Regions from separate parts of the Homo sapiens genome. Here regions 1 and 3 are each linked to region 2. Evidence: fine-mapped expression QTL. A gene starts in region 2. Each other region holds a variant in brackets. All regions are shown on one strand. Distances are between the middles of the regions. Region 1 has its middle 40 kb from the start of ZNF365. Region 2 holds the start of ZNF365 (zinc finger protein 365). Region 3 overlaps ZNF365 (zinc finger protein 365).

What was found. PIP is the estimated chance that this variant, and not a neighbour inherited with it, causes the effect. A credible set is the group of variants that fine-mapping cannot tell apart.
Region 1: its variant is the best candidate, but not a certain one, in a credible set for the expression of ZNF365 in whole blood (INTERVAL, PIP 0.74).
Region 3: its variant is the best candidate, but not a certain one, in a credible set for the expression of ZNF365 in T cells (TOPMed, PIP 0.77).

The regions. Positions count from the first base shown.
Region 1 is chr10:62,410,268-62,418,295 of GRCh38, reverse strand. It overlaps a transcript of ZNF365 not described here. Among named protein-coding and RNA genes, the nearest start is that of ZNF365, 40 kb to the right of the region's middle. The variant A/G (reference allele first, on the strand shown) is at 3,723.
Region 2 is chr10:62,367,844-62,378,414 of GRCh38, reverse strand. ZNF365 (zinc finger protein 365) reads right to left here and starts at 4,046. Exons shown (of 5, transcript NM_014951.3): 1 at 3,957-4,046; 2 at 1,479-2,234. The coding sequence starts at 2,221. It overlaps LOC283045 (a long non-coding RNA gene), which reads left to right and starts at 3,288. Exons shown (of 4, transcript NR_104162.1): 1 at 3,288-3,544.
Region 3 is chr10:62,398,554-62,409,124 of GRCh38, reverse strand. ZNF365 (zinc finger protein 365) reads right to left here. Exons shown (of 5, transcript NM_014951.3): 4 at 10,348-10,385; 5 at 6,675-9,597. The coding sequence ends at 9,336. Among named protein-coding and RNA genes, the nearest start is that of ZNF365, 29 kb to the right of the region's middle. The variant T/C (reference allele first, on the strand shown) is at 3,599.

The DNA of each region.
Region 1 (8,028 bases), 41 kb before region 2:
TCTAACCAGCCTATTTTTTGTGAACTCCAAACCATATAAATATTGACAAAATGTATGTGCTTTTTTATGTCAAAAAAAGAAATATTGACCAGGGTTGAGACTTTCATTTTGATGTTCAAATATCAATACTATAAGATAGACCACTTAAAATTATTCCTGATAGTAAATATATTAGATTCTATTTTTTATTCCTTTAGTTGTTTGTGCATTTTTGTCATTATTTTTCTATATTTTCAATTTTTCTACATTTAAATTGTTTATTATGTCCAAAATGAAAATCATAAAACAAGGTAATTTAAAGTCTTAGTTCCATTCTTGTCCCCTCCTTCCTGTTCTCTCACTCCCTTTAGAATTAACTATTTTTATTAGGTTTTAGTTTATCACTTCATTGCTTCCTTTTGTAAATACATGTGTATTTCCTTTTTCATATATATCCCTTTCCCTTTCACACAAAAAGTCAGTCTTTTTAAGAAAAGCAAATTTGTTACTTGTTGTCAAGGAGCTTGAAGAAATTAAGAGACTTGAGAAAATTAAGAGACTCAGGCTGTATTCCATGCTACTCTCTAGGTGATTCCTGGAATGTCACTCTATTGAACATGTTTTAGTTTCCCCAAGTATTAAAAAAAAAAAGACAGGAGATTAAAGATCTCTAAGTTCTGTTCATTTCTAAGGCAAAAATAAAACAACAAAATTTGAGCCGTGGATGTTGAATCACATCTAGCTTAAGTTGGAGAAAGAGATCTGAGGAATATTAGCAAGTGTCCCAGTGGTTTTATTTAGATGAGCTGATTTTCATTTCTTCTCATTTTCTATGCCAACCCTTTAGAGGTAAAGCCTGCAGGAATGAACTGTAGCTGAACCAAACACGGCATTAGCAAATTGATGAGAATGGACATTTTGTTCATTTTTATAGCAGGCTCTGTTTATGAAAGACTATTAAATGTTTTATCCACTGGGATCATTACCAGTATTTTAAAAAATGACTGCTAGGGCACAAAGTACTGAAGTAGTCTACTCCAAACACTTCAGACAAGATGCACAGTAATAATCAGCATTAGGCTGATGCAGGAGCAAACGTTATAATGACACAAAATAAGGAGAAAGAATCACATGTTTAGTTCAAGTACATTCAAGTCGTTGAGGACAAATGTTGGAAATTTTTAGGAACAACACAAGTGGTCATTGGTAAACAAAGTAAGTATACTTTCTGAGGTTATTTCTCTTGAAAAGGAATATATATTTTAATACTATTTCCAGTAAGTCTTATGCTAACAAAATAGCTCTATCAGACCTCAAATAATCTGAAATTCTCTGGGTTAGTGAATTACTGAGAAACATGCCTTCAAGGGCCCTTTAATTAGTTTGGAGAAGTACATTAAATTATAGTAATACAGGTTAAGCATCCCAAATTCAAAATACTAAAATCTGAAATACTCCAAAATCTAAAACTTCTTGAGTGCCAACATGACACTCAAATGAAATGCTCACTGGAGTATTTTGGATTTCAAGTTTTCTGATTAGGGATGCCCAACTAGTAAGTATAAGGCTAATATTCCAAAATGTAAAAACAAACAAACAAACAAAAAACACCAAAATCCAAAACACTTCTAGTCCCAAGCATTTCTGAAAAGGGAGGCTCAACCTGTAACTTCATGTTCTACAATTATGTGTCTGCTCAACTCTCTCCGCCTCAATAAGATTCAACATGAATAGAAAAAGCTATTTTGAGCTGCAAAGGATCCATGACCTTTCAAACATCTTTAATCCATCCATTTTTTTCTCATTTTCTGTCATCAAGACATTCGAAAAATAGGCTATCCATTTGAGATATCAGACATTTGGTTTTGAGATTCAGTATTAGGAAAACATGGGAACATTTCACATGAAAAGCATTCTTCAGAGAATGAATACCTAGAGAAAGCACTTCCCTTTCTTTTGTTAGGAGAACATTAACTTGGGTACAAATCACTCTTTTACCAAGTTATTTCTTGCATTTGGCTTTCTTTGTGTTCAGCTTATGCTGAGTTTTAGTTTCATCGTTTTTTTTTTTCTGGTAATATTTTATCTGACCAGGTAGAAGTTAAGACACTTGACCTGTGTAAGGACCTGTGCTGAGGGAGGAATCAAGAGATTTGCACAGCTCAGAGGTGAGGGCAATCTAAGAAATAGAATGCAAAGGTGAAATCAAAATGAAAAACCAGGGAAATTATGTGACTGAAGTGTCAATCCAAGAAGCAAGATAGGAACATCCAGTTCTGAGTAGAAGGGGAATAATTTGTGGCTGACCAATGCCTCCTTCAAGAAAACTATAAACACGGAATAAAATATAGATTAACTCTCAAAAACATCAGATAGCTGTTGAACCAAAGAGGACAAGAATGGCTAATTTTCTAAACAGGAGAGAACCTCAGAAAGGTGAGTTGGTAAGAGGCAGTCACTTTTTCCTAGGGGCATTTGCAAATTTTAACAAATTGGCAATTTAAGACTTTCCCAGACTGCTGTTAAAACTAAATACCAGCAAAGTATGTGGTCTTGAGGGTCTGTAGAGAATTGAAGATGAGGAGCCTCAAACACACAACCCTTCAAGACCTCTGCCAATTTCAGAAGATGTGAGGGCAGGAGATTGAAAAGTTAAACAGAAAACATATGAAACACAAAGTAGCATGCTTTTCATGTACTTATGGTACTAGAGAAATAAGAGTAAATTTTAGAACTTGCAAGCTAAGCCCAAAACCTGAAAATCAGAAGAGTTTTTACTGTTTCATAATGCTAATGAGATCAAGATTAGATTCTTCTAGAGAGAGAGAGAGAGCCCAATGAACACACCAAGCATTCAGCTGAAAACCCTAAGAAACAATATCGTAATAACAGGACCAAATAAGAGGTAGACTGAGTCTTACCAAAACTAAACATCAGCCTCAACTCAGTTCAAACCCTAATCACTTTAAATAATCAGTCTTAATTTTGTTTGCCCAGTAGTGGAAAGGGCGAACACACTGGGGAGAAAGAAAAAGTCATCTGGAGCCTATATAATTCTTACATGCAGTGATCAGCATTTGGTTAAAAAAAAAATTTTCCACATGCTGAGAGTGAGGACTATGTTACTGAAAACCAAGAGGGAAAAAAAACATGCAATAGAAATAGAGCCACGGGTAACCTAGATATTGGAATTAGCAAAGACTTTTACTGTAATTAATATGTTCAAAAAAATAAGGAAAATACTTTTTAAAATGAGGAATTTCTCAGAGAACCGTAATCTCTAAAAACAAATCAGACGAAAATTTTAGATTTTAAAAATGTAACATCTGAAATTATGAGTTTGACAGTGATTAGACACAGAAGACAGGATTAATAAACCAGAAGAATGGTCAATAGAAAATATTCAAACTGAAGCACAGAAAGAATAGGAATGGAAAATATAGAAAAAGCACCAGAAACGTGGAACACAGTGAAAAGGCATAGCATACATATAGCCTGTATCCCAAAAGGATAGGAAAGAATGAGACAGAAGAAATATTTGAAACGATAATAGCCACAGATTCAAGAAGCAACCACAAGCACTATGAATACAAATAAAATCACACTTAAACACATCATAATAAAACGGCTGAAAGCCAAAGGCAAGACAAGGAGGAGAATTTGGGTGTGTAGCAGAAGGTTAGAAACTAGGGAGATGCCATATGAACAGAAAAAAAGAAGATGCATTACCTGGATGATCCACC[A/G]GGTAGTACAATTGGCAGAGTATTTCAGAAATGGAGCTGAAAACTTGTAAGAATAAAGCTCCAGATAGATGGCCAGACACAGTGGCTCACACTTGCCAGCACTTTGGGAGGCCAAAGTGGGAAGATTGCTAAAGCCTAAGAGTTTGAGACCAGTCTGGGCAACATAGTGTCTCTATAAAAATTAAAACAAAATTAAAAAAAAAAAAGAATTAGTCAGATATGGTGGTATGACTGTGGTCCTAGCTACATGGGAGGCTGAGGTGGGAGGATCCTCTGAGCCCAGGAGGTTGAGGCTGCAGTGAGCTCTGATTGCACCATTGCATTCCAGCCTGGGTGACAGAAAGAGATTCTGTCTAAGAAAAAAAAAAGAGCTAGATAGGATAATTTTGAGCTTCATTTACAGTTCACTTGTGCTAAGAAGCCTAAAAACAATGATTAAAATCCTAAGCAATTTTTGCACTAATTAGAGTCACAAAGCATTTCTTCTCTATTATATCCAATAAACTAATATATATAATTTATTGGCTGAGAAACACTGTAAGTTTTAGGAAGTGTTTGCTTCTTGCTGGTAATCCTGAATCTATGAGGACTGCTACCTGTGACTCTTTCAGTCAGGAGCCCAGCCTTTGAAAAACTGAACCAAAGAAAGGAAGATCTAGTGAGTATATCAGTGTCATCTACAGGCATATTTCTGTTTCACGTTGTTTACAAGAATGATTCAGAAGTTTTGATAGAGGATGGTGAAGAGAGGGCCAATATTTGTATATTGGATGGCTCCTCCTCTTATTTCTGGTTAAAAACCTCTGCTTCTCGTGGTGAATGCAAAGGAACCATCCAAAAATCCTATTAAGATGCAGATTCCAATTCAATAGATCTAGGGTGGGACCTGGTATTCCTCATTTCTAACAAACTTCCAAGTGATGCTGGATACTGCTGGACTACAGAACATTTTTAAAAGTGAGGTGTTAGGTACACCCTAAATCATCTAAAATTTGACCACTCTGGCAGACAGTTGTGAATTGCCTTAAGACAGAGGGTCAAAAGTTTTCCTAAGAAGACAGAGGGGTGCTCAGTGATTGTATTTTTGAAGCGTTTACTATAATATTATTCTGAACAGTAACTGCTGTGTTTGCAGAAGACGTTAATGCATGTTCCCTTAGAAGAAACAGTTCCATGGTCAAATAAGTTTAGGGAGCATTTGCATACTTTTTTTCTCCTCTAAAAGATTCACAATGCACATTTTCATTGTCGTAATGCTGAACCGTCTGCAGTAGGGAAATATGTTTAGCCTGACAATTCCTTTATTTAACTAGTATGAGTCGGAGGAACTAGTGATACATGGAACACACTTTGGGAAATACAACCACATCATAGAGCAGTAGTTTACGACTTTGGTGTATATCAGAATTAGTTGGAGAGCTAATAGAAAACATCAGATGCCTTTGTATTTTTACTTTTACTAAATTCCAGAGGTAACTGTGATACCCATCAGGGTTTTAGAACCATTGCTATACAGTAATCTCAGAGGAGTTTTTGTTACCACTTGAGGAGGGAGAGTTGCCTATTAGCCAACCTTCTCTCTTTCCAACTTGCTCTGTCAAAGTCCATGCTATCCCTGGGAAGACCAGCATCAGCTATGAACTGCCTTCATTTAAGGAAGAGCATTCAGATCAGATGGGGCTCAATGGCAGTTTTGTGGGAATAGCATTGAATCTATAAATTACTTTTGGTAGTATGACCATTTTCATGATATTGATTCTTCCTATCCATGAGCATGGAATGTTTTTCCATTTGTTTGTGTCCTCTCTGATTTCCTTTAGCAGTGGTTTGTAGTTCTCCTTGAAGAGGTCCTTCACTTCTCTTGTTAGCTGTATTCCTATTCTTGTTGTAGCAATTGTGAATGGGAGTTATTCATGATTTGGCTCTCTGCTTGCCTGTTGTTGGTGTATTGGAATGTTAACAATTTTTGCACATTGATTTTGTATCCTGAGACTTTGCTGAAGTTGCTTTTTAGCTTGAGAAGATTTTGGGCTGAGATGATGGGATTTTCTAGATCATGTCATCTGCAAACATAGATAATTTGACTTCCTCTCTCCCTATTTGAATACCCTTTATTTCTTTCTCTTGCCTGATTGCCCTGGCCAGAACTTCCAATACCATGTTGAATAGCAATGGTAAGAAACAACAGACTTGCCTTGTGCTGGTTTTCAAGGGGAATTCTTCCAGCTTTTGCCCATTCAGTATGATATTGGCTGTGGGTTTGTTATATATGGTTCTTGTTATTTTGAGGTATGTTCCTTCAATATCTAGTTTATTTAGAGTTTTTAACATGAAGCAATGTTGAATTTTATTGAAGGCCTTTTCTGCATCTATTGAGATAATCTTGTGTTATTTGTCTTTAGTTCTGCCTATGTAATGAATTACATTTATTGATTTGCATATATTGAACCAACCTTGCATCCCAGGGAAGAAGCCAATTTGATAGTGATGGATAAGCTTTTTGATGTGTTGCTGGATTCGGTTTGCCAGTATTTTATTGAGGATTTTTGCATTAATGTTCATCAGGGATACTGGCTTGAAGTTTTCTCTTTTTCTTGTCTTCTGCTAGTTTTGGGGTTTGTTTGGTTTAGGTTCTCTAGTTCTTTTAATTATGGTGTTAGGTTGTTAATCTGAGATCTTTCTAGCTTTTTGATGTGGGCATTTAGTGCTATAAATTTACCTCTTAACACTACTTTAGCTGCATCCCAGAGATTCTGGTACATTGTCTCTTTGTTCTCATTAGTTTTAAAATTCATATGAAACCTAAAAAGAGCCCAAATAGCCAAGACAATCCTAAGCAAAAAGAACAAAGCTGGAGTCACCATGCTACCCAACTTCAAACTGTACTACATGGCTACAGTAATGAAAACAGCATGGTACTGGTACAAAAACAGACACATAGACCAATGGAACAGAATAGAGAACTCAGAAATAAGACTACTCAGCTGCAACCATTGAATCTTCAACAAACCTGACAAAAACAAGCAATGAGGAAAGGATTCCCTATTTAATAAATAGTGCCAGAAGAACTGGCTAGCCACATGCAGAAAACTGGAACTGGATTAATTCCTTGCACCTTATACAAAAATTAACTCAAGACAGATTAAAAACTTAAATGTAAAACCCAAAACTATAAAAACCCTAGGAGAAAATCTAGGCAATACCATTTAGGACATAGACACAGGCACAGATTTCATGATGAAAACACCAAAAGCAATTGCAACAAAAGCAAAAATTGACATGTGGAATCTGATAACTAAAGAGCTTCTGCACAGCAAAATAAACTATCATCAGAGTGAACAGACAACTTACAAAACGGGAGAAAATTTTTGCAATCTATCCCTCTGACAAAGGTCTAACATCCAGAGTCCACAAGGAACTTAAACAAATTTACAATAATAAAAAACAAACAATCCCACTAAAAAGTGGGCAAAGGGCATGAACAGACACTTCTCAAAAGAAGACATTTATGCAGCTGACAAACATATGAAACAAAGTTTAACATCACTGATCATTAGAGAAATGCAAATCAAAACCACAATGATACACTGTCTCAAGCTAGTCAGAATGGCAATTATTAAAATGTCCAGAAACAACAGATGCTGGCAAGGTTGTAGAGAAAATGGAACACTTTTACACCGTTGGTGGGAGTGTAAATTATTTCAACCATTGTGGAAGACAGTGTGATCATTTCTCAAAGATCTAGAAGCAGAAATACCATTTGACATGAAAATACCAAAGACATGGAATTAACCCAAATGCCCATCAGTGATAGACTGGATAAAGAAAATGTGGTACATATATACCATGGAATACTATACAGCCATAAAAAGGAATGAGATAATGTCCTTTACAGGGACATGGATGGAGCTGGAAGCCATTATCCTCATCAAACTAATGCAGGAACAGAAAACCAAACACCACATGTTCTCACTTATAAGTTGGAGCTGAACAATATGAACACATAGACATAGGGTGGGGAACTACACACACAGGTGCCTATGGGGAGGGAGGGAGAGCATCAGGAAGAATAGCTAATGGATGCTGGGCATAATACCAAGGTGATGGGTTGATCTGTGCAGCAAACCACCATGGCACATGTTTACCTGTGTAACAAATCCTGCACATGTACCCTAGAACTTAAAAGCTGAAGGACAAAAAAAGAGAGAGAGAGAGATTCCTCTATACATTCTACATACTGCAGGAATTCCTCAAAGTCTTTTCATTGTAATCTCCTGGTCAACAGTAGCTATCCCTTAGCCCTGCT
Region 2 (10,571 bases):
ACCCCAGATCTCATGTTCATTATTACTCGTGTAATTAATTAGTAAAATACAACAAATAAATAAGTTCAAAAAATTAATTTTGTTGCCTTTTAAACTCACTGCTCTTGAATGAAGCAAAAATGTTCAAATTTAATTCTAGGCCTTTCTTTACGCATAGAGTAACCACATCTGCCCTTTTTTCAACAGCACAGTGCGGGTCACTCTGGTGGCCATTAACGGGTCTAGACACTAACTTCCCACCAGGAAACACCAGAAACCAAAAGGGAAACATTTTTCATTAGAGATTATTTCCCTAGGAGCAAAGTAAGTCAGAGGCTGATTCAAATCCATCCTAACTACGTAATTTAAAAAATGTCTCGCCTGAACAAAAAATGTCTAGGCTTCCCCTCAAGGTAGAACGTAAGCATTTAAGTGATAGCAAGTAATGATCTCTTTAATCTATGGAGTGTCTCAGGAAGTTCTAATTATTACATTTTAAGAGACAACACAAAATAGAAGAGTGCCAGAGGGCAAAGAAAAGATGAAATTAAATCAATCTCTATAATAGAACTCAAATTATTTGGAAACCTACCTTTTAGGATGTTTTACTCCATCAATTTTAATGTCCTTTGATTCCATGAATTTCTAAACCTCTATTTAAAATGAAATCTGACATTCTGCATTTGGGAAATACACTGACTTGTAATGTACACTTTTCTAGTTTGGGTTAAATCTATACTTACTGATAAAGAAATGCTTCTCTAAGTATGATGATTTCTCAAGCAATAGCTTCTATGATCTATAACTTGTGAAAACCAATCTCAACTCTTTGCAAGTGGGCAAAACTTAAATATAACAAAAAAAAATACATCATTTGCCAAAAAGTCAAGTCTCAAACTTAAATCATAGAAGTATAGCAATATCAGAAAGTCTTTCCTCTGGGTGCCCTAATGTCTGCTTCTCCCAAATATAAATTAAATTAAATGGATTCTCAGCTACTAACATTTAATTAACCTGGGCAGATAATACAAAATGGCAAATAAACCAAACTTATTTATACTGGAGGAATGTTTTTGAACTTAAGACAGCATCTTGCATTGACTTTATAATACGGAGACTGTCAAGAATGAACAGCTCACTTAGCTCACCCTTTCTGCCTTCCCATTCAACTCACCCTTGCACGCCATTTGGTGCTAGGAATGGATCCCACCATGGCTAGGCTGTGCTAGTCTTCTCTCTAAAAGCATAGTCTGTGGTTTACAAATTCCCAGTTGAGAAGGAATTAGATATTTGACTTTAATGCTGCTAGGTTGCAGACCGTGCACACAGAGGGTAAATGATATCAAAGCCTTGTTCCTCCTGGTTCAACTATATCAATAAGAAATGCAGTCAAGGCACCTGCAAATAGCAAAAATCAACCTTGCTTAGCATTTGCTTGTAAGGCGATTGGGGTGCTGCTTAAAGCAATGGGGTTAGCATCCCCTGTCAGCAACACTTACTCTTCTTTCCTAAGAAGCTCCTCCTCAGATTCCGTCAGGCGTTGCCTCAGTACAGCTATCATTTCCACGGCCACGTCCACCTGTCTGTTTAAGGCCCGCTCTCGTCTCTGAACTTCCTGCTTTTTCTGAGTCAGCTGCACAAAAGCTGCCCGAACTTCCAACAGTTCCGCAGTTTTCTGGGCCAACTCTTTGGTGAGTTTATCAATTCTCTTCTCAATGGTCCTATCCACAGCCTCAACCATTCGATTGAATTTTTCTCTGACATGTGCCTCGAAAGAAGCTTTGGTGTCTGAGGTGGGCAGTCCAGGACCCGACCGTGTCCCATCCAGCGAGTCTGCATGGAGGTCCATGGCAGTGTAGGTCTGCACATAGGACACAGGCCTCTCTGCCACCACCTCAAATGGCTTCCTGTCCTTGGAATGTTCATGTGAAATGCTGTACAAGTTAACATAGCTCGGTTTCTGCTTTACCACGTTGCCACTGCTCTGCAATTTTCCCGGTTTCAGGAGTTCTGAGGAAGTGACTAGGTCTGTGTCTTTGAGGGATGGAAAGAGACTGCATTTTGTCAAGAGGGTTCTTTCTTCGTAGCTGTGACTGAACTCCAGATGGGCCCTCAAGGATGACAAGCTTCTAAATCTGGTATGGTCTCCACACCTCGGGCAGCGTAATGGCAGGCACACAGCAACATTCTCAAAGGACTCCTGCCAGGGATATCTGCTTTCCTCAAAAGCCTTCTGTTGCATTACTCTAAAAGTCCTGGGAGGGGGGAAATAGGTAGTTTACAAGTCGGCTGAAAAACACACTACTAAAATGATTGCTGCTCATCTCCATGACAGCAGAGGCTTTTTGGTTTCAAGTGACTTTTGCACATAATATTTTATGTTGCACTTAAAACCTACAGCCCATGGGCCAAATCCATCCACATCAATTTCTGCATTATTTACTGCTGCCGTATCAATTTCTGTATTATTTATTGTAAACCACAATGGCAGTGGTGAGTAACTGAGACAGAGACTCTATGCTCCTAAAAGCTAAAATATTTACTACCTTTACAGAAAAAGTTTGCCAACTCCTACCTAGAATCAAAAAGGTGGGTAACATTCCCTCTCCACAGAAGAGAACACTGAAGCAAGGAAGTAAAGCCATTAATCCAAGGTCAGATGGAAAGTGGTAGATCCAGAAGTGGAATTCAAGTTTCCTCCCCTCCTGAATTTGGCACACTAAATGCAAAACCGTGCCCCATTTTAAGGATACAATCCGAGATGCGTGAACACAAGAACATATGAAAACTCACATGAATTGTCAAAATGGGTCCTAAGACAGCAAGCTCAGGACCTATCCTCAAGTACAGGAAAGATTACTCAAGCTATGCACAGTGGCATTAAGCCTGCAATCAGCTGAAAATTTTTCACCCTGAAATTTTTGCCTTTTTTTCCTTCAGGTATTGCTGTGATGACATAAACCAAAGTGCTAATCGTAACAATAACAGACCCCATACGTGAGTTTCACTGAAACCTGGGGACCCAATGTGTCAAATACCATTTGGCATAAGTGGGGCCATGGCCAAGATTTTTATTATAATAGAGTGTTCTGGACGGATTTGTCTTGTCTCAGATGCTATTTTATATGACAACCTCTAGGGATGGTCAGTGTGTGAACCAGGTAGGTATCAGCATACTCTCTTAATAACAGGAAGTTCTGGTTTCCTTGTAGGAATGCATTATCTTCACCCTAGCAACAGATGACTGTTGGCAACCCAATTCTGCAAGCAGTGCATATCTTCTATTCCTCCATGAAAGGTTTCTACTTAAATGTAACAAGCATTGGACCCGAAATGAGGGAGCCCAGCTGGGGTCTTTGGGTGAAAAGTGTCCTCAACCTCTTCAAAAGCAGAGGTGCAAATGGTCCCCAGGCAGCGAGGCAGGCAAGGCTTCTAGGTGAAGCCCCCGGCCCCCAGAGAGGGGAACCTCTTCCTGTGATGGGTACACCGGGATGTTTAACCACTGGTTTTCTGGGAACGAGATGCAAACCCTGGCTCAGCATAGGGCCAAAGACGCTGACAAGAGGTAAGGAAAGGGGAAGTCAGGATTCTAAGGGGGCAATGGGAAAAGGGTGGCATTTTGGATGGGGAAATGGGTAATCACACACTCCAGAGCACGCAGGCTTTTATGGGCCCAGAGGAAACCCAGTCCACTGGGCTGATGAAGAGCCCTAAGTGACTCTGCCAGAGAAGGGCAGGCTGGCAATGACCCTGCCCCGGGGTCCCAGCTCTCCCCGCCCCCTCTCCGCTGCGTGCCAGCCCACGGGTGCCAGAGTGGATTCGTGTGCACATGAGTTCCTGCTGGTGGGGGCCGGGAAGCCGGCTCTCCCAACTCCCCGCCATGCTGCGGGCTCGGGGACCCCCTCCCCAGCCCCGGCCACCCCGGCAGGTCCCCTCCGCCGAGCCGCGGGCGCAGATGGCCGGCGGCCGCCTCTTACCCGACTTGTTGCTGCTGCTGCTGCAGCCGCCGCCTCCGGTGCTGATGCTGCGGGAGCGAAGCGGTTTTCAGCAGAGCCGTAAATCAGACTGAGCCGGGCCGGCTCCCACTCCCCGCCGCACCTCCGCGCCGGGACCGGCGGCGTCCAGGGCGGAGCGAGGCGCGGCTAGCCAGCGGGGGCGGCGCTCGCGGGCACCGTGGGGCACCGCGCCGTGGGTGCGGGGGTTCCGGAACGCCGCGGCCCAGGGCTGCCACCTCCGCGGGGAACACCCTTGCTCTGCCCAGCTGGCGGGAGCATCATCTGCCCCCCCGCCACCCAGCCGGGAGCCCGATCCGACTCAGGATTACACTGACATCACTGCGAGAGATGCTGGGATCATTCCCCGGGGGAGGGAAGGAAAGACGCGTGTCAGCCTCGCAGTCGCGGCGCTTTCTGCAGGCCCTGGCAAGCTTTTTTGCACTAGTTTGGGGGGAGCGGGAGAGTGTGGATGAGGATGCAGCATAGCTGGGCATCTTCTTTGAAAATCTACCCGTTGGAAGGTCCGGGTATTTAATTAGGACCTCTTCATCCCAAGCAGCAGGGCGAGAATGTCCCAAAATAACTAACCCAGAGAGTACACTCCAGCCTTCCTAGCCAAGTGTCCTGAGGCTACGTTAACAGGCAGAACTAAATCTAGTAAAGTGCAGGGATTAATGAACAAACAGTTAAAGCAACAAGATCCCTCACCTACACCCCCATTTCTGAGGCGGACGCCCCTTTCCCTGGAGAAAAAATTTGTCCTCCTAAAGAGGGGATGTCCTGAAGAGAAGACGGCAAATCATTCCTTCTGAAGGACTCTGATGTCTCAGCTTGCTGGGCTTTTGCTTTTTTTTTTTTTTTTTTTTTTTTTTAACCTGTTTTGGTTTACCCCTACTGTAACTCCTGAAATGTGAAACCTAGATAAAAGTTACTGCTGGGTTTTCTTGTTCAAAGAAGAGAAGAGATTCTGTTCATCTGTAGACAGTTAATGCATCCTCTTGACTTCTCAGGGTGTCTTTTCTCAAGGCTTGCTGTTACTCATTTCAACACCCGATTTTATTTTAACGGTAAAGAGCTCAACAGTTATCTTAGTTGAAATTTTGTTTTGTTTTTGACAAATGAAAACAAATGAATTGCTTTGTTTTTTCACAAATGAATTATCACATCAAATGCAATGAAGATCCCAAGCTCTGGCATCAGACTTGATTCAAATCCTGGTTCTAGGGCCTGGGTCAAGTAACTAGACTTTTCTGTTCCTTCAATTCCTCATCTATGAAATGAAGATAATCAAGACCTACCTCTTAATATAGCGGTGGATCGAATGTGCTATGATGATGGAGGTAAAAACCCTGCCTGACAGGGACACACACTGATAAAGTCAGCTGTTATCGTTGTTGCTACTTCATTTATAATTATTATTAATTCCATAAAAAAGGGGCCTACACACATTTAAAAAGCAGGAAGGAGAAGAGGAATTAATATGTACTAACTTCTACGTAAATGGAGATAGGCTATTGTGCTGGGGTGTGTTTGCTTTGAAAATATTATATCTCATTGAAGTTACTTTTTGACTCGCTCTCAAGACTATTCCAAGAATCAATTTATTTAGTACAAAATCTTAAAGTCTGAAAGATACACTCATTGGAGTGCCAAGTTATCTCCGTCATCTTGTGAGGTGCCTGCAGGTTAACCTCTTACACCCACTGCCTTCATGGCAAAACATAACAAAAGCATGCTCTGGTCCTCCCTTCCCCCCCGCCCCTTTTTTTTTTTTTTTTTTTTTTTTGAGACGGAGTCTCACTCTGTCTCCCAGGCTGTAGTGGCGCGATATCAGCTCACTGCAACCTCTGCCTCTTGGGTTCAAGCGATTCTCCTGCCTCAGCCTCCCTAGTAGCTGGGATTACAGGTCCCTGCCACCACCCGGCCAATTTTTGTATTTTCAGTAGAGACGGGGTTTTGCCGTGTTGGCCAGGCTGGTCTTGAACTCCTGACCTCAGGTGATCTACCGGCCTCGGCCTCCCAAAGTGCTGGGATCACAGGCGTGAGCTACCGCGCCCAGCCAGCTCCTCCCATTTCTTAGACAGCTGCTACTTCTTTTTTGGTCCTAAGTTCCTCCCCTGTTAAATGAGAGGATGGAGATTTTCAAAGTCCTTTTCTCACCCTAAAAATATAAAATATTATCAAATAATTATGGAGAGGTTATTCTGTGCAGGGCCTAAAGCTGAGTATTGTGGGAAATTCAACTTGGTCAACAGGCATTTAGGACCTTAAGTGGTTCTCAAAGTGTCACTTGTGTATACCACCAATTACCTCATTTAATCTTTGAACACCTGTGAGGTAGGGAGGACCTTGTACACTCAGTTCTAGCCACCTTGGCATCCCTTTACTTAAGAGCCCTGCTTTTTCCCGTCTCTAGGGCCTCTTTATCTGGTAATGCCTACTCATCCCTCAGAGCTCATCCCAAGTATGCCCTCTCTGAGGAGGTCTTCCCTGACACTCCTGGACAAGGTTAGTGCGTACTAGGAAAATTTATTATGACAGGATTTGTCACAATAATTCTATGTGCTGGGTTATGGATGTAGTTGTCTGTTTAATATTTATGTCCACTGTTAAGTTGTAAGCTATGTGAGTCAGGGTCCTTGTCTGTCTTACTCTCCAGTATATTCCCAGGACTTAGCACAGTGCTGATCAAAGTGCTCAAAAAATATTTGTTAAAAGAATGAATGCTGAAGAAATAAATCCCCTTTCTACATAGGAGGAAACAGGCCCAAAGAAGTTAAGTAACTTTCTCAAGATCACAAACCTAGAACACATTACAGCCAGGATGGCAAACCCTGGGCTTTTAACCACTGTACTCATTGGCTTTCCAGTTTTTGATGAAGAAAATAAAGTTCTAGGAAGTAAAGTGACTTGCCTAAAGTCATATAGGTAATAAAGAATAAAATCAGGGTTAGAGTTCATGTCTTCAAACACTGATGTTTTTCTATGCCACATTATGCTGTTTTACTCTGCCCTCCAGGCACTTACAACTAGTGGAATGAGAACAAGGCATATATATATGATAGATATATGAGATATATATCATATATATGATAGATATATGAGATATATATCATATATATGATAGATATGAGATATATATCATATATATGATATATATATGAGATATATGATATATATATCATATACATGATATATATGATATATATATCATATACGTGATATATATGATATATATATGATATATATATCATATATATATCATGTATATGATATATGATATATATATGATATATATGATATATATGATATATATGTGATATATCATATATATGATATATATATGATATATATGATATATATGATATATATGATATATATGTGATATATCATATAGATGATATATAATATATGTGATATATATGATATATATGATATATATGTGATATATATGATATATATGATATATATCACATATGATATATATCATATGTGATATATATGATATATATCACATGATATATATCACATATGTGATATATATGATATATATCACATGATATATATCACATATGTGATATATATGATATATATATCATGTGATGTATATGATGTATATGGTATATGTGATGTATATGATGTATATGGTATATGTGATGTATATGATGTATATGGTATATATGATATATATGATGTATATGGTATATATGATATATATGGTGTATATGATATATATGATATATATGGTATATATATGATATATATGATATATATGGTATATATATGCATATATATGGTATATATATGATATATATGGTATATATGGTATATATGGTATATGAGCATATATATGGTATATATGAGATATATATGGTATATATGAGATATATATGATGTATATGATATATATGATATATATGATGTATATATGATATATATGATGTATATATGATATATATGATGTATATGATGTATATATGATACGTATCATATATATGATATATATATGATACGTATCATATATATGATATATATATGATACGTATGATATATATGATATATATATGATACGTATGATATATATGATATATATGATACGTATGATATATATGATATATATGATATATATCATATATATCATATATATCATATATGTATGATATATATGATATATATACTATATGGGATATATATGGGATATATATGATATATATGGGACATATATATGAGATATATATATGGGACATATATATGAGATATATATATATATGGGACATATATATGAGATATATATATATGGGACATATATATGAGATATATATATATGGGACATATATATGAGATATATATATATGGGACATATATATGAGATATATATATATGGGACATATATATGAGATATATATATATGGGACATATATATGAGATATATATATATGGGACATATATATGAGATATATATATATGGGACATATATATGAGATATATATATATGGGACATATATATGAGATATATATATATGGGACATATATATGAGATATATATATATATGGGACATATATATGAGATATATATATATGGGACATATATATGAGATATATATATATGGGACATATATATGAGATATATATATATGGGACATATATATATATAGAGAAGTTAAATATATGTTAAAATGAATTAAATGGGAAGTGTCTATAGGGCCTGACATCATGCCTGGCACATAGTAGATGTTCAATAAATGTTTGCTGAATTGTTAATGATCATAGCTCTCACCTTTAGAGTAATTACAATGGATCTTACTATATTAAATGTTTAGGCACATATCCAGTGTTTCTCAAAGTGGGACCTGTGGAGCCTGTGGAGCTGGTCAAAATGCAGATGTCTGGAACCTTGACCTAATAAATTGAAATCTGTAGGTGTGGATCTTGAAGATCTGCATTTTCACCTATCTCCCCAGGTGACTCTCATGACCACTGAAGTTTGAGAAACAGTCCTTTGTTACAGTAACCAACGAGGCAGACATTGGCAGCCGTTTATGCACAAGAGAGGATGCTGCTGGAGATGCGATGAATACAGCTGAAGGTCATGCCACTAAAAAGCATGAGAGGTAGTAAGAATTTGAAGCTAATTCTGACTCCAAAAGCCTGGGCTTTTTCCATCATGACTGTGAAAGGAAGGGTGGTGGAGAGGAAAAGAGGTGGGCAGAATGGAAGAATAGGTAGGAAAAGAGACAGAGAAAGAGGCAGAAAGGAAGTGAAGAAGAAGGGGAGGAAGGTCAAATGATTAATATAGAATATAGATTTCCTTGAGACAGCAAAGAGCCCTTCAGGCTGGGATAGTTAGAGAATCTCTGCTGAAAGACCTAGGAATTGAATGGAGATTTTTTAGCTCCCTTTCCTCTCCATTTATCAAATAACATTCACCCCTTGTGGCCAGAACGGCTGCCTTTCAAATACAGGTTTGAAAGGTTTGAACCAGAGAGGCTGTTTAAATTTTTTTGATCCATTTATTAAATATGTTGATTACATTTGCTGAAAAGCAGCCTTATGGGGACTGAACACAGACCCTCTAAGATTTGAATAATTGCCCCAGATAAAGGGCCTGCAAGGGGAACCCAGAGCAGATTCCTGCTACTTTTTCCATGTCTGCAGCAAACATCTGTGTGCAGAAGGAACCCCCTGGGTTGCAGAGCTAATAAGTGGCCTAAAGATCAGACACAGTCCTTTGGAATCAGGCAAATGATTTCTCACACAGAGTGTCAGGTAATTATGAAAATCCAGAGCTACACCACTTCCCAAGGAGGATATGATAAACTTGCTCCACACTGACTTAAGTATTGACTTTAAGTAACAGCTCAGTTCTCAGCTGTTAGGTTTTCCAGCTCCCTCATGCAACTAATTGCATATATATATTCATTCTGACTTTCAGCAGGTATTATGGTATGCCTACTATGTGCCAGTACAAATCACTTGCATCATTTAAGCTTCAGAGTCAGAGCTGTAATCTGGCTTTAAAGTCTTCACCAGAATACTCAACTAGAAAACTCTATTTCTATTAAATTTCGTTGTCATGGCAAGCACAAAGCAACACCATGGAGAGTGCCTTAGATCCCACAGCAGTCTGTTAGCCAGTGTGAATCTGCAGGGAGTAGGCCTTCTATAGGGGCTAAAAATAGAAAACTTACAGCAAGGTTAAACCCCCCACCTAGGAAGAGCAGTGTTACTTGTTCCCTTGGTGGGGTCAAACATGAACCAAATGAGAGGATGGGCTAATTTTCTACTTTGCAGGTTTCTCCAGCCCAGTGCCTGAACTAAGAATGTGCAGACCCAAGATCTAATACCCTAATTAGTTGTGTGAGTTTTTATTCAAGCTGGCCAACATCTCTGGGCTTCATGTCTTCGTTTGTAAAAAGCAGGAGCTGGAATGAACTAAGGACTTTCCAGTACCACAATCCTAGTTGTTAGTCCAGTTAATGCATTTGTCATTTCTGGCTGGACACCGTGGCTCACGCCTGTAATCCCAGCACTTTGGGAGTCCGAGACAGGTGGATCACTTGGGGCCAGGAATTCGAGACCAGCCTGGCCAACATGGTG
Region 3 (10,571 bases), 31 kb before region 2:
AGATTCTAAGTCACAGTTTCAGGAAAAGCTAGGAAAATGAGCATGTGGCATTTTCAGCTTCTAAGTAGGAGATGGCCCTACCCCATTAGGGAAGGAATCTCCCTGCAGTCACAAGAAGGGGGTTTGAATTCCGAACAGCCAAAAAGAAGAGCAGATGTCAACTACAGCTGGAGTAGAGAAAGTAAGACCAAGAAAAGAAGATCAGAGACGCTATCTTGACCCTGCTGGGGAATAAAAACATAGGACGCTAAGAAGCAAAGCAAAGCAATTGCATGAAGGTACAAAACCAACGCATCAAGATATGAGTCCAAAGGCTGTTCTACGATCTAGTCTTGCCAGTAGCTCTGATATTTTGGTCTCTAGGCATTGGGCTTGTGTGTTAATAAGTATTGGTTAATTCATAACTTGGGAGGGGAATCTTATTTACTGGCCCATATATCCCCCAACAGATGCTGTTAGTATTTGTTTTCTGACACTCTCTTTTCTAAGTCTCCGTGTTTAGCCAATAGTCTCAAATAAACAAATATATTAAGTACTGACTCTGTGCCAGGTATTATGCTAAAAACCTTATATGGATATCTTATTGAATCTGCACCATGATCCTGAATACAAAGAGAGACAATGAGGCTCTAATCGATTAAATAAGTTGCTCAAGATAATAAAACTAGTAAGTGGCAGAGCCTGATGTCTTTCTTTAGATATGTTAATACCTATCTGTTTCTATTAGATAGGTTAATATCTTCAAACAGGTTATAGTCAGTTCTTTACCACCATTCAGACTGTTTAATGTAACTTAATGATTTTCTGCTTTGAGTTCATTAAACGTTGCCCTTTGTTTTAGTACACAGGGAAGAATCTTGTTTTTCTATTTTCAAGTTCTTGATTAGAAAGTTATTAGGGGAGAGAGAAGACTTCATGGTTGTTCCCATGTGCTTTCCACATGGCCAAGGCAAGACATCATTCTATCTATTTTCCAGATGAGGAAACTGGACCCACAGTCAAAGCAGATGTAAGTTGTAAAGCAGGATGCCAAGATCAGTGCCCTTTCAACTGCACCATTGTTGAGGAAGGGCAAATAGATTGTGATTTGTATGCTGACTAGCTGGTATACTCATTTTCTATGGCTGCTGTAACAAATTATCACTAGTTTAGTGGCTTAAACAACACATAGTTATTATCTAAAGGATTCTTCCAAAGTTAAAAGTTTGGGTAGGTAGACATTCTGCCTACCACAGCTGGTTAAGGCTGTGTTAAGAAGGATTCTGAGGCTATGTCTGTGTTCATCAGGAAAGATAACCCTGGCCAATTAGCAATGTCTACCATGGATTCAGAAGGAAATACCATGTATTTTCTATCTTACCATAGATGCAGGCTAAAAGAAGGAGAGTATTAAAATACCTACTGATAAGGCTTTAGGACCAACAGGTTCATATGCCTTCTACACAGTAATAGTTCAATACACTGAGACAGCAGGGTTTGCAGCAGAGAAAGACTTTAACAATCACAGGGCACCGAGTGAGGAGAGGAGAGGAGAGGAGAGGAGAGGAGACCCTCAAATCCATCTCCCTGATTTTTCCTGGGCTGGTGTTTTTAAGGGGATCAGGGACAGTGAGGGTCAAAAGTCAAAAGTTTTCCTAAGAAGGGTAAAGGGAATGTGGGAACCGCATTCTTTAGTGAGTCAGCTTCTTGTGGGGTCCTTCAGGCAAGCAGGTGTCAGTAGTTTCACTGGTACACAGGACCTGAAGGAATATCTCAAAGGAAAAGCTTAATGTTTTGTAGTGTTTGAGTTTTTATCTATACAGCAGTTCAGGGGAGCTATAGTCTTACAGCAGGGTCTGCATGATTCTGGGGCAATAGGCCACAAACCACTATGGGGAAGCAGGTCAGAGGGCAAGCTGACCTCATAACAAACACTGACAGTGCTGCCAGCTTGGTTTATTTTTGTTTCTCCCCTCCATGCTTCTCTGATTAATTTTATAAAGTTTGTAGGAATGGCTTCAATAAGAGGAGTGACAGCCAGTTTGTGGGCTCCAGCCCTTGCTGGAAGGACCCTTAGAAGCAGAAGCAGAGTGCTCCAGTGCTCTGCCTGGTTCCATACTGTTGTAGTTTTTCTCTTCCTGGAGCTGGAGATACTTGACCCTCTGGCAAGGTGAGCCCCTGCCCAGGTTCCAGGAATGATGCTGTCTCACTGGATCTCCTGAATCTCTACACAGCGGCAGGCCCAGTGCTAGGTGCTGGAGCATCAGGGTAGATACAGTTCTCTCACAATGGGATACAACACTACAGGATAGCTGCAGACCTGAGGGGCTTACGCTTAAAATGGGAGACAGACTGGCCAAGAAATGGATATTCAAGGAAAAATTATGTTACTTCCCAGGGTTCACTTGTCCTATGCTTTCTACCTCCATGACCACACTCAGACTGCCTAAAATGCTCTGCTGTTTTGCTAACTCCAATCCTGTTCATTCTGCAAACACTACTTCCTCTTTGATCCTCCCCAGCTGGAAGAAAGTCCATTTTCTCATTGTAGTTTTCTTTTTTAGCATATCTGAGGCCACTGATGTTCCCATACTCCACAAATACCTTATTGAGGACCCACCCTATGCTGGGTACTGCATCTGGCACTGGGGACATACTAGGGATAAAAGGTACAGACTTGGCCCCTTTTTATGGAAATGACAGAACAGTGGGGAAGGCAGATATGAGTCAAGTCATCACACCATTAAATATTATAAAGGGGCACCTAGAATCAGTCCTACAAGGAATAGGTACATGGTATTCTGAGAGTTATGAAGCTGCCTTGGAAGTGACAATTGATCTCAAATCTGAAGGCTGAACAGAAATTAACTAGATGAAAAAGAAAGAGAAGTCCATTCCAGGCAGAAGACACATGTCAGGGAAGCAGTGCATGGAGAGAGCTCTGCTCTCTCTGAAAGGAAGGCAGTGGCTGGAAAGGAGCAAGAGGTCTGGTGCTGGCTGGAGTGGAGAGACAGGCCAGAGCCAGGGCATGCGGGGCAAATTCAATGCTTTGATCTTCGTCCCAATAACTAACTGTGTGTCCACTCCTCTTGCCCTTACCCACTCTAAGCTCCTCGGGTATCCCTTACCCTTTAAGAATCTTGGTTCCCTCTACCAGATCTCTGTGTTTAGGACTATATGAGAAGTGTTAGCTATAATTTCAAGCTACAGGCACACTTAAAGATAAAAATAAAGTACATTCCTGAGAATGGGGAAGTGGGGTTCACCCTTGAACAAATAATTAGGGCTTGGAAAGAGGAGAGGTTGAGATATAAAACCATCTTTCTGTTTCTGTATGATATACTCAACCAAAGTGAACAATGCCACTTGTTAGTCAGCAAACAACCAATGTGAAATGTCCACAAACATATGCACTAAAATCTAACAGACTTCAATCTGAGACTTCGAAATTCCTTGGCAAGTTGGGGTCCTCATCTCTAAAGGGTGGCAGAGGTCTTGAGCTTACAGAGTGGCAACGTCTATAACTCCCATAGTGGCTTGCATAGGTGCAATAACCAATCATAAATGTTAAACAGAATTTTAGGACACTGAGAACTTTTATGTAATCAACAAATGCATA[T/C]AGGATCATTTTTTGGAGTTTTGTCAATGAGGAGGCAGAACACGGTGAAGGAGCATTGGCTGAGATGTAGAAGGACAATTCCTTTTTCTCACTCAAGCTCTGTCACAGAGGCGTTCCTGGGCCCTGGAAACCCTTTCAAGCCATCATAAGCCCCCCTCTCATTGCAAAATGTGATGATGTCACCTTCTTAAGTATATTCATAAGAAAGGCAAAAGCTGAAGAATAATCAAAACTACCTGGAAAATGCCTGAAGAAGGCACGATGCTGGAGCCTGACATGACACACACCATCTCTAAGTCCAACATTGCCAATTTATCTTCCAGTGCTGGAAAGAACTGCTGTTGATTTAACTGAACACCAGATGAGGTTCCTGGCTTGCATTCAGGAGCCATGTTGTAACAAAAAATGTACCTTCTCTTTAAACACTGAAATCACATTCAGGGAGGTGAGATGCTTCCGTTCCAAGAAGCACATCATCCTGAGGTAATAGTACAAGATGTACATCTCCTGTTTCCCCAACTGCTGTTTCTCCACCTGCTGAGAGTAGAAAATTGTACCTCCTCAGCCCTACTTGCTTCAAAAGGATTCTGTAAGGATAAATATGGGTGCGTGTTATCTTTGTAACTTTACAAAATTTACAAACTTTGCAAAGCCCAAGTCAGTGAAATAAAATCTCCAAAATCAAGTTACCATGTTGACACTAAGTTTTATGTGGCCAACATTTACATTAATGTAACATCAATACATATATAAAACAATAGAATCCCAAGACTACAAGTATTTTTGGAAGAACCCAGCCCAATTCCCAACCCAATGTAGAATCCCAATCAAAAGTTACTCATGGATTTTGAATTACGCAGGAGTCGGTGTCCCTAACCCTTGCAATGTTCAAGGGTCAACTATAAGGGCAGACTAAGGTCACCTCTCAAATAACTCTCACAGCCCCTAAGCAAATGGAGTCCCCTAAATTTTCCTGATTTCATGGTTCTAAAAAGAACAATGGCTGAGAAAAGGAGTAGCTAAGAGAAAAGTAGTACTCAAAGGAAATAGTAGCTCAGAGACAGGGAGCTCGCTTTTTAACTAGGTGACCTATTCCGTTGTGCTTAGAAATTTTACATTTAGTAATTTGACATCTGCTTCCTCAGAACTTTCTCTCACAGATCTCAGTAATATCTTTTGCAGCCACACAAAATATGTATTTTTCTATGTGATAACACCTCAGATACTTAAGGGCAGCAATAATCTCTCCTCTTCTCACAGGACATTGGTACCAAAGTTCTCATTTACCATCCTAGGCATCTACCTCCACATATGCAAAATGTATCAGTGTCCCCATTACAGGGTGGGAAGGAGAATCTAGCCTGCCTATATGTGAGGTTCCTCTACTGGAAAAACTCTTCCATCCTGGAATAATAGCTGAAGATCCAGAGTAAATTTAACATAGGGCTATAGTTCGAATACTCTTTTCTTAAATGAAAATTTCAGTTGTGTTCTGACCCAGAACATGAACAAAAAAAAGGAACACAAAAGAAAAAATTTACTTAATTCCACAAAAAGGAATTCAATTTCTAAAGCTCTTCATCATTTAAACATTTGAAATTGCTCCGGGGCTTCTTTTTGGGATCATGCAGGCATGCCACCCCTGGAATTCACTTCTGAAGGATCCAGATTGAGCAGAATCAAGATATTGGGATTTATGTTTTCTAATAAACTGAGATAATCAGGAATGTCACAGCTATTTCTCAAAAACACTATAACCTGGGGAACCCATTAACCTTGACATAACTACAGTTGACTCTTGAATGATACAGGTTTGAACTGAGTGGGTCCAGTTCTTTTTTTGTTGTTGCTGTTGTTTTTGTTTTTTTTGAGATGGAGTCTCACTCTGTCACCCAGGCTGGAGTGCAGTGGCGCGATCTCAGCTCACTGCAAGCTCCGCTTCCCGGGTTCACGCCATTCTCCTGCCTCAGCCTCCTGAGTAGCTGGGACTACAGGCGCCCGCCACTGCGCCCGGCTAATTTTTTGTATTTTTAGTAGAGACGGGGTTTCACCATGTTAGCCAGGATGGTCTCGATCTCCTGACCTCGTGATCCGCCCGCCTCGGCCTCCCAAAGTGCTGGGATTACAGGCGTGAGCCACCGCACCCGGCGGGTCCAGTTCCATCCTGATTTTTTCTGCCACCAAAGGTAGCAAGACAAACCCTTCCTCCTCCTCTTCCTCCTCAGCCCACCCAACGTGAAGACAATGACGATGAAGTCCTCTATGATGATCCACTTCCACTTAATGAATATAACTGTATCTTCTCTTCCTTATGATTTTCTTACTAACATGTCCTTTTCTCTAGTTTGATTGTAAGAATACGGTAGATAATACATTTAACATACAAAATATGTGTTAACTATGTTATCAGTAGGGCTTCTGGTCAACAGTAGGCTATCAGTAGTTAAGTTTTTGAGCAGTCAAAAGTTACTCATGTATTTTGAATTACGCAGGAGTCGATGTCCCTAACCCTTGCACTGTTCAAGGGTCAACTGTAAGTGCAGACTAAGGTCACCTCCTGAATAACTCTCACAGCTCCTAAACAAATGGAGTTCCCTAAATTTTCCTGATTTCATGGTTCTTAAAAGAACAATGGCTAATTCCACCAGACACATACTTCTCTCTGTTATCTATTCTGATCACTCTCTGGGCTTTGCAATGTCTTGGATGTATAGCATATACAGGCTGGGATATATACTGTGAAATCTGTTTATGAATTGCTAAGAGATGACAAGTTTAAAAATACAGTGTAGGAAAATTACTCATGGTTGTGGAGGAAGATGGGGAAAAGTGCCAAATGGGGCTTTTAATGAAGCTGTCTCAGTGTGAACATATGTAAAAATAACTTTTAGATATAGGAATTATGATGAACAAAAATGATCTAGCTAAGTTAAGAAAACCTATAGGTACACAAGATCCTGGTGATTATATGTATGATGAACAGCTTATTCAGGAAGGACCATTTTGTTTCCTGTTAGTGGATCAACATACTTGGCTCCCCAAAAAACACTCCAACTAGACAAAACATATCAACACATTAGTCAGAAATATAGCTTTATTATCATAATATTTCATAATCTAAAAACTTCTTTAATTCTGGAACAGAATATTCCAACTTCTGTACAACTGACTGGCCCTGCAGAATACTGGAAAACAATGTCTAAGCAACTTGAACCTTGCAGATAAGAACCTGTAACCTAGTTTGGGAAAAAGGGAAAAAGCAAGAAAAGCGGTTCAAAGGAAGATTTCTTCCCTACAAGACAAATAAAATTAAATCTACTCTCCATTTCAACCTTGAACATAGTTTCCCAGAAACTTTGGTGATTTCTTCAAAAAAGCAACCGCCTTAACTCTAAGGTCAACGGCCCATGTGGACAAAGAAAATATTTAAAAATAAGACACAAACAGGACATGGTACTTAGCTCAGGCCATGGTATGTTAAGTGGAGTATGCTTCTGAGTAAGCCATCTCCCATGTTTTGACACTAAATTTATGTCTCTAAGGAGGCACAACATACATAACACATTTCTTTATATGGGGTCAAAATTTAGTGGGAACGTAAAAAAACATTTTAATATAATAAACAAATCTCAAAATAATTCGTCTTGTGAAATGTAGAGTAGGATGACATTATGGTACTTTCTGAAGATCATGGGGTACCACTGTCAAAGAGAGTTGCCATGCCCTCTATGTTAGATGAAAATCCAAAATGTCAGTTACTTTAAATAAAACAGAAACAAGTTGTCATTGCACACACATTACAGGACAAAGAGCATGCAATACAACTAACAAGTCATGTTTTTAGTATGTAAAAGGCTAAGGTGCAATCATGGTATAAGCATCAATAATAAATAACTTTAGAGGGGGAAGTTAATTCTCCAAATAAATAATAATTATAACATTACAATTTTTACAATGTTAGCCTAAACAGTGCTATTCACAGCAATGTTTTTGCCCACTTGATAGCTGCTTATATATCACATGAATGATCTACCCCCCCCATAAACTGAAAGTCAAAGTGAAGATTCAAGAACATTTTCATTATGGTAGGTTCAGAATGTTTGTATAATGATAAGTTACACTTTTCAATTGACTGGCATTTTAAGCAACTGCTTTATTTCCTATTTTTAATGCGCTGCTAATTTGATGCTTATTGCAGTAACAATCATAATTCTGCCAATGTTAATTACGTTACAGTTTTGATTTTTTAAATAAGAGAATTCAGTTTACATGAACAAACATATATAGTTTAAAAACCACCCACCACAAACACACACTTTCTCCATGAGTATTTAAAAATAAATTATTAATATACTTAACATATATATTTTGTATGTGTTATATATATGTATATATGTATATATTTGTGGACAAAATTATTCCTGTTTTCAGAAGAATGTCAGCACTTGTAAACTCTGCAAGAGACCTGATGATATTGCTAAATTTAAGGAAAAAATAACATGGAAATTCATTCTTGAGGAAAATCATACAGCAGGAAATTCTTAACAGCTCTTTGTGGAAACTAAAGCCATTTTAGGGAGGGAAGGAGGGGAAGACAGTGTCAGATTCTGGCTCCTACATGCATTGTTTATTTCAGAAATTACTTTAGAATGCAACATAGAGTGAACACTCCAGATACTTGGTTGAAAGATACCTGAAGCCCTTAACAGGGCACAGAAGCAGCAGGAGGCAAAGTGAACCACCCAGTGGAAAAGTTAAGCCAGCGAAGAGAAAGTCATGCCCATAGCAGAGAGAGAGAGGGCCACTGACACTGGCCGGGAAGCAGGTCTTAGGAAAGGGCTTGGCGACACCCGCAGTGCTTCCAGGATGGTCACGATGCACGATGCACCAAGCGTGCAGTCCACTGTCATTCCAACCACCTAGCCACCCAGCCCATGCTGGGTGCTAATCAAAAGAGGATTTTACTTCGCTCCCCAGCCATATCCACAGAAGCAGCTATTAAGATAGAGGCTGGCAGCATGGTCTGTGGGTGCAGAATACTCAGCCAAAGAAGACGGCAGAGGTGTACCAAAATCTGAATAAACATGCATCTAGGCCACCAAAAAACCTCAATCAAACAAACGAACTGAAAGACACCCTGTCGGAATGAGAACTGAAGTCTGACTGAACGAGTCCCTTGAGCAACCCAGAAATTGAAATCTTGATTAACCAGAATACTCGGGGAATGGGAATCCTTATTTTGGAGGCTTTCAAATTAGCTGAGGGGAAGGTTATACACAAACACAAATATTTTCATTTTACTGCTATTAACAGAACTTTACACTGCCATTCCTTGCCTCGCACTTTGGAGAGCAGTGGGCACAGATGAATTTTCTCCCTAGGCCTGACATTTTGTGTGGCCTTGGTCCTGAAAATTAGTGACCACTGCATAGAAGCCCAGATGCCAAGATTACTGGAGACTGGGCCAGTTACTTTAGAAGTTAGAGCTTTAAGATTGATTTAATTTTTTTATTCTTTCTGTAATTTGCAAGCTTCTAAAAGGGGGTTATAATAAAATTCTGGTTCACTAAGATTCCCATTTGCTAAGCTCTGGTTAATTGAGGTGCTTGCCTGTGTTATGCCCTTGGCTTTTCCAATGTGTCTTACTATGGAATGTTTCCAGAAAGACATTACTGTTGGCTCCTGGAACAACGTTCCCCAAAGCCCAGCGATGATTGGTCCAGCACCACCCACCCTTTTAGATGATGTTCACAATGGCTGTTGGCTTTTTTTTAGCCATTTTGGGCCTGATGTTGCCTTTGCGGCCAAACCCCAGGAGCTCCCCTTTCTTTGGAGGTCTGCAGAGGTCTCTTGAGGACTCAGCCTGTTCGTGAATGGCCTTGGCAGGCTGCATGCTGGCTCTGTCATCCTTGGCCTTTTTCAGGTGGTTCCTTCCCTTTGGGTGGAAATGGGCCTTGAGATCAGGGTGGTTACATACCGAATGCGGGTGCCCTCGGCTTCTACAGAGGGTTGGAGGGGGGAGTGGAGAAGAGATGAGCAGAAAGAAAGATTTCTTTAAAACCTTAAAAGAATAATTACTCATGGCACAATCTCTCCTACATGCTACAGTGGTGATAATGCTACCACAAAGGCAAATCATAATATGAGTATTTTTCTTCCAAAAATTCCTGTGGTCGCCATGAAAAGATCACATGGTACTAAATTCCCAGGGAGATATTACTAGTTCTATTTACAGTGATAAGACTGAGGTATAGAAAATGTTAATGACTACCCCGAATAATACAGACAGTTGGTCTATGGAGAAGATGGGACCAGAACTCATGTCTCTTGACTTGTTAAGTGACGACTAGCAGACTCAGACAAATTCACTGCATAGATGTTGTAAAGCATATGACTGCCAGGATGAATTTACATAAACAATGTAGTACATGAACTACATTAATAGTACTATAGAGTTATTATGACCACACTATACCTCAATAAGAGAAAGTTATACTATATAATACTCTAAAAATATTCCTCCAGTGCCATCATAGTGGTATATACTAATAGACTAGTAGGATATTGAAAGGTCACATCAACTTTTCACAAAGTTAGATACACATGCAGGTCAGTTTTCACTTAAGCCTCCCAAAGCCATTTATAATATAGATATCATATAAAATAGATACGATCTCATATAAAATGCAACAGGAAAACATACAATACAAACATTATCAAATGGCCCAAGTATAAAAATACATACATACAGGCATTTGGGCTTCCTATTTGAGGAGATGTCTGTAAGCTGAAGGAAAACAAATAAGAAAAAATGTTAACTGCATTTGAGGACTGGATTTGGTTTTTAAAATATTTCTTATACTTTCTAAAAACTGCATTCCCATTAAGGGAGTCAGTGACTGCTACTGGTAGCACGACCTGCAGCACCATCCATTGCATCAGTGAACAAGAACATCTCATGCTCAGCCTTTGC